2 separate regions of the Homo sapiens genome follow, and region 2 is linked to region 1. The links come from fine-mapping of genetic effects on gene expression. A gene starts in region 1. The other region holds a variant in brackets. All regions are shown on one strand. Distances are from middle to middle. Region 1 holds the start of INCENP (inner centromere protein). Region 2 has its middle 16 kb from the start of RAB3IL1.

What was found.
Region 2: its variant is fine-mapped to the expression of INCENP in atrial appendage (GTEx, PIP 0.93).

The regions. Positions count from the first base shown.
Region 1 is chr11:62,121,997-62,126,996 of GRCh38, reverse strand. It overlaps INCENP (inner centromere protein), which reads right to left and starts at 2,986. Exons shown (of 19, transcript NM_001040694.2): 1 at 2,834-2,986. LOC124902681 (a long non-coding RNA gene) reads left to right here and starts at 3,286. Exons shown (of 2, transcript XR_007062697.1): 1 at 3,286-3,340. RefSeq lists enhancers at 2,115-2,696, 2,686-2,755, 3,286-3,375.
Region 2 is chr11:61,930,466-61,935,996 of GRCh38, reverse strand. It overlaps a transcript of RAB3IL1 not described here. Among named protein-coding and RNA genes, the nearest start is that of RAB3IL1, 16 kb to the right of the region's middle. The variant G/A (reference allele first, on the strand shown) is at 3,014.

The DNA.
Region 1 (5,000 bases):
AAGTACAATCAGCCCTCCATATCTGTGAGTTCCACATCCATGGATGCAATCAACCACCAGTGGAAAATATTTGAAAAAGAGCTGCATCTGTACTGAACATGTATAGACTCTTTTCCCTTGTCATTATTCCCTAATAATACAGTATAACAACTACTTGCATAGCTTTTACATCATATTAGGTGTTATAAATAATATAGAGATATAAAGTATACAGGAGGATGTGTGTAGGTTATATGCAAATACTATGTCATTTTATATCAGGGACTTGAACATCTGTGGATTTTGGTATCCAAAGGAGGTCCTGGAACCAATCCCCTGAGGATTCCAAGAGACAACCATATTCTACTACATCACAACAGGGGCTCATTAAATATCCCAACAGGTGAATGAGTGAAAGAACAAATGAATGGGTGGTGGTCATAAGCCATAACAACAAACTGCATGCCTCAAGTCAATGGCAGTGATCCACCATCCTGACTTACCTCTTTAAAACCAAGAACTGGCCGGGCACGGTGGCTCACGCCTGTAATCCCAGCACTTTAGAAGGCCGAAGTGGGCAGATCACGAGGTCAGGAGTTCAAGACCAGCCTGGCCAACGTGGTGAAACCCAGTCTCTACTAAAGATACAAAAAAATTAGCTGTGTGTGGTGGTGCACGCCTATAATCCCAGCTACTCAGGAGGCTGACGCAGGAGAATCGCTTGAACCTAGGAGGCAGAGGCTGCAATGAGCCAAGATCACACCACTGCACTCCAGCCCAGGCAACAGAGGGAGACTCTATCTCAAAAAAAAAAAAACCATGCACAACTCAGCCTCCCACCTACAATGGAAGGTCTTGTAAGGAAGGGATAAATTGCTGACCCCTTGATCCCTCACAGGGCGTAGCACCAGGTCAGGTTTCAGTCTCATGGGACTTCCTCAGGCTTGATTCAAGGACACAGTAGTCTTTGTTCCTCAACAAGCTCTGCCCTGCGTCTGGAACATTGTCTCACATTTTGTATGGCTCACTCCTCATGGCTTGGATCTCAGATCCTCAGGAAAACCTGAAAACCAATCTAAAGTAGCCCCAGCCATGATCCCATTCATTGATTGTAATTCTCTGCAGAGCACTTGCGTGCTTGTTTACCTGTTGCTTACTGCCTGTCCCTGCCCACTAAACAATTGCTCTCTGAGGGCAAACCCCTGTCTGTCTTGCTCATCGTTGAATGCCCAGAGCACAGCAGTGCCTGGCAACAAGGACTATTTGTTAAATGAATTAATCCACCCATCAACTCTACACCTAGAAATAAACATCCTATAGGTGCTCATCCCACCACACAAAGGGCACCAAATAAACTTAATCTGCACAGGTTAGAACTGACCAACACATGTTCAAAACCCCTGTTCCCAGATGCCAAGGGCAGCAATAATCAGGGCAGGGCCAAATGGGCAGGATCGTACAGGCTTTGGGCTGAAACCTCGGCTCTGCAGCCAGCCAATCATGGGCAAGCCCTTTTCACTGTCATCCCTCACCTTCCCCTAACCCTTCTGCACCCAGACCACAGCCCTGGCAAAGCGCAGGACCTCAGGCCAGAAAAGAGAAAACTGTTTAAGGAAGCCAAAGGTTTGCAGAGAAAAGCAACAACTGGCTAACTTTTTAAAAAGTATTTGTTCAAATGGGCAACGTGGATGAGAGCTTCTTTCACAAAGTCCATGAAAGCAATTGGACTTCTTTCACGGGGAGGTTTGCTTCTAGCAGACCTTAGCGCAACGATTTAAAAAGGGTTACCGTAAGTTAAAACAGAGGTGACCCTGAAAAAGAAGGAATCAGTGTACCAAGAATCAGGCTCCTGGAAGAGCAGCAAAAATCTCTTCTTCAACCCATGTAAGCACCTGCACACAGATAAAGAGCACTCAACACCTCACCGAGGAAGACACTCTCCAGTCTTCCTCCTCTCCAACACTTCTTCCACACCATACACCAGACTGAAGGCCCCATCGTCCTCCTCTATGACTCCTGTCCTTTTCAGGGTGCTGTAAGTTGGGCGCCTACCACACCTCTGTGCAGAAAGCGCATAGCAGCTGCTCCCATTTACTGAGTCATACTCCATGCCCGAGTCAGACATCATCTCATTTAATTCTCACCACAACCTTGAGGATACGCATGGGCAGATGAGGAAATTGAGGCAAAGAGAAGTCAAAATCAGCCGGTAAATCAGGGGCATAAATAGAACCGTGCCCTTAACCACGGGCTATACCGCCTTTAAACCGTGCCCTTAACCACTGGCTATACCGCCTTCTAGATATCAACTTCTGAAAGGCAGGTGCCCAGTCTTGGCTCTGGGCAACCCCGCGAGCAACCCATGTTAGCTGAATGAGACTGAACCGCTGACAGCGAACAGGCTTGGGGAGTGACAAGGGGCGGCCCAGCCTCCGGAAATGGTCAGTTTAAAATGCTGCTCAGCTGGGGGCGGGGGCGTTGAGAGAGGGGTTTAACTGCACAGAAATGCCATCTGGCATCATTCCGCCAAACAACCGGGTTGGTTTCGGGCTTCCTGCGCGTCCAAGTCAACACTAATCCTCACAGGCACAAGGTGCCAAGCAGCCGGGAGCGGAGGGAACGGGGCTATGCTCTAGGAAGCTGAGGGCCTAGGTGGAAAGGGTGGGAGGCATCTCGGGCCCGAGAACCAAGGCAGGCGACCTCGCCACTTGGAAGAGGTGACCCTCATATGCCCAGGTAGCCAGGGGCTGGGGTGGGGAGTCACGACCCTGGTCCGGAGTCGACAGGGACGGAGCAGAGGACCGGGGAAAAAATCGCGAACCACCCCCCAATCCCCACGCCCACGCGCACTCACTCGACTGCGCCACGTCCCCTGAAGGCTGCTCCGATCCAAGTCCGGTGGTATCCCTAGGTAAGGCCCCGCTTGCCCAGACCCACTTGGCTCCGGGCCTTCGGGACTCACCGCACGGGAGGAGCAACCAGGCGGCGCAGCGCGGGCGAAAACTATGATTTTCAAAACTGAAGGCTCAGCCAATCCTCGGCAAGTTTGTCCGGGCGGTTGCAAAATTTTAAGCCAATCAAATAACAGGAAGTACCAGTCAGCCCTCCTATTGGCCATATCCACTAGCAATCTGCGGGACTAAGAGGCGGGGAAAGGAAGCGAAAGACTTTAAGCCCCCTCAGCTTCCGGGTGCTGCGGCCGCGGCCGAGAGAGGAAGTAGATCCCCGCCTGGGAGGAGCCCGCAGACCTGGAACTACGAGTCCCGGCGAGCACTGCGAAGGCCACGCGCGGCTTTCTTTCTTCTCCAAGCACGGTGGCAGTCTTCTGATCTCTGCTGCTTTTTTTTCCTCATAAAAACATGTATGTATATACTTACATTGCTGAAAGACCAGCTTTTTAATGTAACAAATTATCTAGGTACAGAAGTCATAGGTTCCTCTTCCCATGAGAAAAACATTCCTCAAAATACAAACCAAACAGCATCCCAGAGGGAGTAAAATTTCATTGTACTGAAACATATACAAATTAAGGCTACCTTGGTATATAAACAATTTAGAAATTATGATGGAATAGTTCCACCAAATCATTTACGTATAGGAATTCATGCCATTTTTTAAAGAATTGGTAGTGGGGCTCAATTCAAACAATATTATGCATCCTTACATTCAACTTAATACACTTAGCAGCTATAAGGAGTGTAACTGTAACCCCACTTCCTGAAATCTCAGGAGTAATGTTAAAAATCCAAACCCATCAAAGGCCAGGGTGTTACGGTATTTGGCTCATGAATCGAAAAGCCTAATCATTTCAATTTAATCTTTACAAGTAGAACAAGATCCAAACATGGGACGTTTTCTTATTTTTCTTTGCTTTTGTGGTTGTAATGCCCTTTTGGTTTTCTGAGCAAGCTGAATACATCTGATAAATACTACCATTGGACAAAGGATCTAAACATTGAGATGTTTTACTAAATCAAGGTTTCAAGTTGGCACAATGTTTTTACTAAGTCATATTTCAATTAGTTCATCTTTCCAATATGGAGGCGGGGGGGGAAAGACAAGGACTAATATGTCCTATAAAGAATCTCTGGCCGGCGAGATCCCGCCACTGCACTCCAGCCTGGGCGACAGAGCGAGACTCCGTCTCAAAAAAAAAAAAAAAAAAAAAAAAGAATCTCTGGCCGGGCGCGGTGGCTCACGCCTGCAATCCTAGCACTTTGGGAGGCCGAGGCGGGTGGATTGCCTGAGCTCAGGAGTTCGAGACCAGCCTGGGCAACACAGTGGAACCCTGTCTCTACTAAAATACAAAAAAAAATTAGCCGGGCGTGGTGGCTTGCACCTGTAATCCCAGCGACTCGGGAGGCTGAGACAGGAGAATCGCTTGAACCCGGGAGGCAGAGGTTGCAGTGGGCCGAGATCGCGCCATTGCACTCCAGCCTGGGCCACAAAAAGCAAAAAACTCCGTCTCAAAAAAAAAATCTCTGCCGCTTTTGAGAAGTAAAAACAAAACGCCTTGTGAATGGCAACGGAGTGTGCGTTTATCTAGAGCCTTCTGTCATCTCTTGGGCGACAGAATCCTTGGTCACCTACCCTGGTACTGGACGTTTCTTGAGAGAAGTGGTTCTCATGCAGAGGAGGTTTTATCCCACCTCCGCCCCCCACATTTGGCAGTGTGTGAATTCATTTGGGTTTGGGAGAAGGGGTTAGTGGTATTTGGTGGGTAAAGGCCAGGGATGCTGCTGAACGCCATCTAGTGCATAAGACAGTCCCCACAGCAAGGAATTACCCGGCCCCAGATACCAGAATTGCTGCTGTTGAGAAACTGCTTTAGACAAAGTCACTTTACTCTGTGAGTCAAGGTTGCTGTTACCTGTAAAATAAGGCAGTTCAATCTTGAAGAGATTTGTACATCCACGGTCAGCTACCAACAGATAGTTTACCCTGTTCCCAGGTCGTCTGTAGTATTTTTCCTCTCCCTTTCTTCCCTCTCTTTATCAATTCTGTTTTTGCCTTTGTTATTT
Region 2 (5,531 bases), 190 kb after region 1:
CAGAATTTATTTTTCTCTTTTTTCTTTTTTTTTTAAATGTTCCTCTTGGCATATACCTAAAACTCCAGGATTTCTATTTGTTTTCTTTTTATAATTTATCTTTATTTATACTCTATATTTAGTGAGATATAGTTCTCATGGTTTCCTTTAGGTCTTTGAGTAGATTTAAAATAGTTGATTTAGGCCAGGTGTGGTGGCTCACCCCTGTAATCGCAGCACTTTGGGAGGCCGAGGTAGGTGGATCACCTGAGGCCAGGAGTTTGAGACCAGCCTGGCCAACATAGTGAAACTCCATCTCTACTAAAAATACAAAAATTAGCCAGGCATGGTGATAGGTGCCTATAATCCCAGCTATTCGGGAGGCTGAGGCAGTAGAGTCACTTGAACCTGGGAGGTGGGGGTTGCAGTTAGCTGAGATAGTGCCCCTGCACTCCAGCCTGGGTGACAAAACAAGACTCCATCTCAAAAAATAATTAATTAACTAATACAATAAAATAGTTGATTTAAAGTCTATCTATAAAGTCTAATGTCTGTGCTTCCTCAGAAACAGTTTCTTTCTTTTTTTTTTTTTTTTTTTGAGACACAGTCTTGCTCTCTCACCCAGGCTGGAGTGCAGTGGCTCAATCTCAGCTCACTGCAACCTCTGCCACACGGGTTCAAGCGATTCTCCTGCCTCAGCCTCCCAAGTAGCTGGGATCACAGGTGCGTGCCACCACACCCAGCTAATTTTTGTATTTTTAGTAGAGATGGGGTTTCAACATCTTGGCCAGGCTGGTCTTGAACCCCAGACCTCGTGATTCATGGCCTCCCAAAATGCTGGGATTACAGGCGTGAGCCAACACACCTGACCTAACAGTTTCTATTAGTTTATTTTTTCCCCACACATAAACTATGCTCTCTTGTTTCTTTGAATGTCTCATAATTTTTGTTTGAAACTGGACATTTTTAATATTTAAATGTAGCAACTCTGGAAATCAAATCTGAAATCTCCCAGCACCCCAGAGTTTGTTATTGAGGCTTGTAGTACTTGTTGGGATTTTTTTGTTTTGTTTTGTTTTGTTTTTTGGTGACTTTTCTGAACTAATTTTGTAAAGTCTGTATTTTTTCTTGTGTATATCCACTAAAGTCTTTGTTTCATTAGCTTAGTGATCAGCTAATGACTTGACAGAGATTTTCTTAAATACCTAGAACAGTGATAAAAATCTTCCAGTCTTTGCAGAATGGCTCTGTATGTGTGTCGGCACATACCTTCAACTCTAAGCCAGGCAATTTACAACTGTGCTTTAACCTTTGTCTTCTGCTTACAGAGAGCCTGAAGATCAGGTAGAGGTGGGAATTTAGGACCCCTTCAGGTCTTTTCTGAGCATGCACCCAGCCCTAGGCACGCATGTGCACCTCTATTCCCTGGACTATGTAGGAGCTTTTCAAAGCCCTTAGGGACTTTTGAAGTTTTCTACTATACCATTTGCACTGACATCTGATCCTTTTCTTTAGGCATAGAATATATATATATATATATATATATATATATATATATATATATATACATACACACACACACACACACACATACACATATATATGTATATATACAAATATATGTATATATGCACACAATATATATTGTGTGTATATATATACATATGTGTGTGTGTGTGTGTGTGTGTGTGTGTGTGTATATTTACTCAGGCCAGGCACAGTGGCTCATACTTGTAATTCCAGCATTTTGGGAGGCTGAGGTAGGAGGATCACTTGAGCCCAGGAGTTTGAGGATGCAGTGAGCTAGGATTGTGCCACTGCACTCCAACCTGGATGACAAAAGAAGATCCCATCTCTTTTGCTTGGAAATCATCTCAGCTAAATATTCAAGTGCATCACTCACAAATTCTGCTTTCCATGCAACTGTAGGACAAAGTATAGCTAGACTTTCTACCTCTATAGAACAGGGACCTCGTCTCCTTCAGTTTCTAGTAACATTTTCTTCATTTTGTTCTGAGTCCTCACTGGTAGAGCCTTAATAGCCATCTTTCTTTTTCTTTTCTTTTTTTTTCTGAGACAAGGTCTTGCTCTGTTACCCAGGCTGGGGTGCAGTGGCGCAATCTTGGCTCATTGCCGCCTGCACCTCTTGGGTTCAAGTGATTCTCCTGCCTCAGCCTTCCTAGTAGCTAGGACTGCAGGCACACACCACTATGCCCAGCTAATTTTTGCATTTTTAGTAGAGACAGGGTTTCGCCATGTTGCCGTGAGCCACCACACCCAGCCAATATCCATATTTTTACTAACAATCTGTTCAAAGAAACCTAGGCTTTTTCTGTCATGCTCCCCAAAATTCTTCGTCTCTACTCATTACCCAATTCCAAAGCTACCTCCACATTTTTAGGTTTTGGTTACAGCAGCACTCCACTCTTGGTTCCAAAATCTGCATTACTTTTTTTAATGATAATTGTAACAAATTATCACAAACTACGTGACTCTAAACAACAGAAACTTATTTTCTCACCATTCGGGAGGCCAGGATGTCCAAAATCAGTATTACTGGGCCTAAAGCAAGATGTCAGTAGATCTATGCTCCCTCTGGAGGCTCTCTTGTCTCTTTCAGCTCCTGGTGGCTGCCAGCACTCCTTGGCTTTTGGCCACAACACTCCTCCATCTTGTGCCTTTTCCTCTTTTGTCTGTGTCAGATCTCTTTCTGCCCCCCTCTTATAAGGATACATGTGATTGCATTTAGGGTCTACTCCAATAATTTGGAATAATCTCCCCATCTCACGGTCCTTAACTTAATTACATCTTTACAGACTCTGTTTTCATATAAGGTAACATTTACAGTTTTCAAAGATTAGGATTCAATATCTTTGAGAGGCCATTTTTATCCTACCACAGTTATGGTCCTATCATGGAATATTATACAGCAATAAAAATGAATGAACTGGCCAGGCATGGTGGTTCACACCTGTAATCCAAGCACTTTGGGAGGCTGAGGCAGGCAGATCACAAGGTCAGGAGTTTGAGACCA[G/A]CCTGGCCAACATGGTGAAATCCTGTCTCAACTAAAAATACAAAAATTAGCTGGGCATGGTAGTGCAAGCCTGTAATCCTAGATACTCAGGAGGCTGAGGCAGGAGAATTGCGTGAACCTGGAGGCAGAGGTTGCAGTGAGCTGAGATTGTGCCACTGCACTCCAGCCTGGGCGATAGAGTGAGACTCCGTCTCAAAAAAAAAAAAAAAAAAAATGAACTATAGTTACATAAAATAAGGTAAGTCTTGGATATAATGTTGAGTTAAAAAAAAGTTCTAGAAGACTTTATCACTATTTTCTATTTATGTCTTTGATTTCTCTTTTATTTATGTCTTTTATTTCTTTTTAATGTCTTTTATTACATTGTAAGCCCTATAAAGCTTAGAATGTAAACCTCATAGGGCAGGGCCTTGTTTTGCTCATTGCTATACACCCTGTGCCTGGAAGAGTGACTGTCAGGCAAAGAAATACCAAACAAATAACTGCTGAATGAATGAACTATTAAAATGGATATTTTTGAAGACTGATATAAGCAAATAAAAAATCTTACAGTATAACACTAATTTTTTTATAAACCAGAATCCCAAAGTGCTGGGATTACAGATGTGAGCCACCATGTCCAGCTAAGGTGGTCTTTTTCAATTTGAAAACTCATATACTTCAGTTTTGGGAAATAATCTTGAATTATTTATTTGATGCTTTACCCCCTTCATTTTCTTTTCTTTTTTTTTTTGAGACAGAGTCTCGCTCTGTCTCCCAGGCTGGAGTGCAGTGGTGAGATCTCGGCTCACTGCAAGCTCCACCTCCCGGGTTCACGCCATTCTCCTGCCTCAGCCTCCCGAGTAGCTGGGACTACAGGCGCCCGCCACCACGCCCAGCTAATTTTTTGTATTTTTAGTAGAGACGGGGTTTCACCATGTTAGCCAGGATGGTCTCAAACTCCTGACCTTGTGATCTGCCTGCCTCAGCCTCCCAAAGTGCTTGGATTACAGGTGTGAACCACCATGCCTGGCCAGTTCATTCATTTTCTTCTGTTGCTTCTTTATTCAGATATTGAATCTTCTAAATTGATTCTCTACTTTTCTAATCTTTTCACTATTTTCCATTTCTTTCTTTCTGAAGGATATTCCCTCAACTGTGTCTTCCAACCTTACTCATTGTTTTCATTTCTACCATCATGCTTTTAAAAAATATATTATTTTCCAATAGTTTTTGTTGTTCTGTGAATGTTTACTTTCATAGAATCAGGTTATTATTTCATGAATGCAATACCTTCTTTTCTCATCCTGAGGTTATTAATGCCTCTCCTTCTTCCTCCTCCTTGCCTTCCTTCTCCTCCTCCTCCTCTTCACCTCCTCTTCTTTTTTCTACAGAGTCTCTGTTTCCTGCAAGTTGCTTTTCTTCTGCTTACTGGGTTTGGTCTCTCTTAAGGTAGAGGTTCTCCTTAGTTGTCTAATAATCCTTGATTGCTCATTATTAAGAGCGAGATCTTAAAAACTGATGGCAAGCATGTTGACTTTGAGCTGGATGGATATTTTGTTGGGTAACATTCGTCTTAGATCTCTCTTCTTGGGTTGGCCAGAGTCCCATAGAGGGGCTGTCTGGAGGGTAAAAGTCTGTCTTTACCCTCCTGGTGACTGAGTGAGTTGCCACTTTGGCTGACAAGTGACAGAAGAGGGTTGGAGGTCTTGGATTTCAGTGTGTATATAATCACTTAACCCTCTTATTCAGCTACTGGCCCAAAGACCTTCTGTTTTGCCTTCTCCAGAGAATAAATCTCCAGTGTTATGCTAGACTAAGAAAGGGGCAGTTGGCCAGTGGCATGGAGTAGAGGAGGGGACCTAGGGATCAAATTGCTTATCGGTTCGCTTTGATCTAGTGCTCTATACTTCAGTTACTACCAAGGCCAGTGGTCTCTGCTGCCACCAGCTCCTGATGTTTTGCTGCCTTGATGTAGCCGTAGTTCAGAGACATTTGTTGACATCTCACACCATAATGATAGATGTGTCTATTTTCCCCTGTAGCTTTAATTATTTTTGCTTTAAATATTTTAGGCTATTTTATTAGGCACATATTAATTTAGATGGTTATATCTATCTGGTGAATTTTTTTTAAACATTGTCATCACTTTATTATTACTGCATAGTGACCACCTCTACACTAATAATGTTTTTCGTCTTAAAGTTTGTTATTAATTTGGTCTTTTTAAGACAGGGTCTTGCTGTGTTGCCCAGACTGAGTGCAGTGGCATGATCACAGCTCACTGCAGCCTTGACTTCCCAGGCTAAAGTGATCCTCCTGCCTCAGCCTCCCAAGTAGCTGGGACTACAGGCCTGCACCACCACGCCTGGCTAATTTTTGATTTTTTGTAGAGATGGGGTCTCCCCATGTTGCCCAGGCTGGTCTTGAACTCCTGAGCTCAAGTGATCCTCCCTTCTCAGCCTCCCAAAGTGCTGGGATTACATGCATAATTCACCATGATTCGTCTTAAAGTTTGGTTATTAATGCAGAAATACCA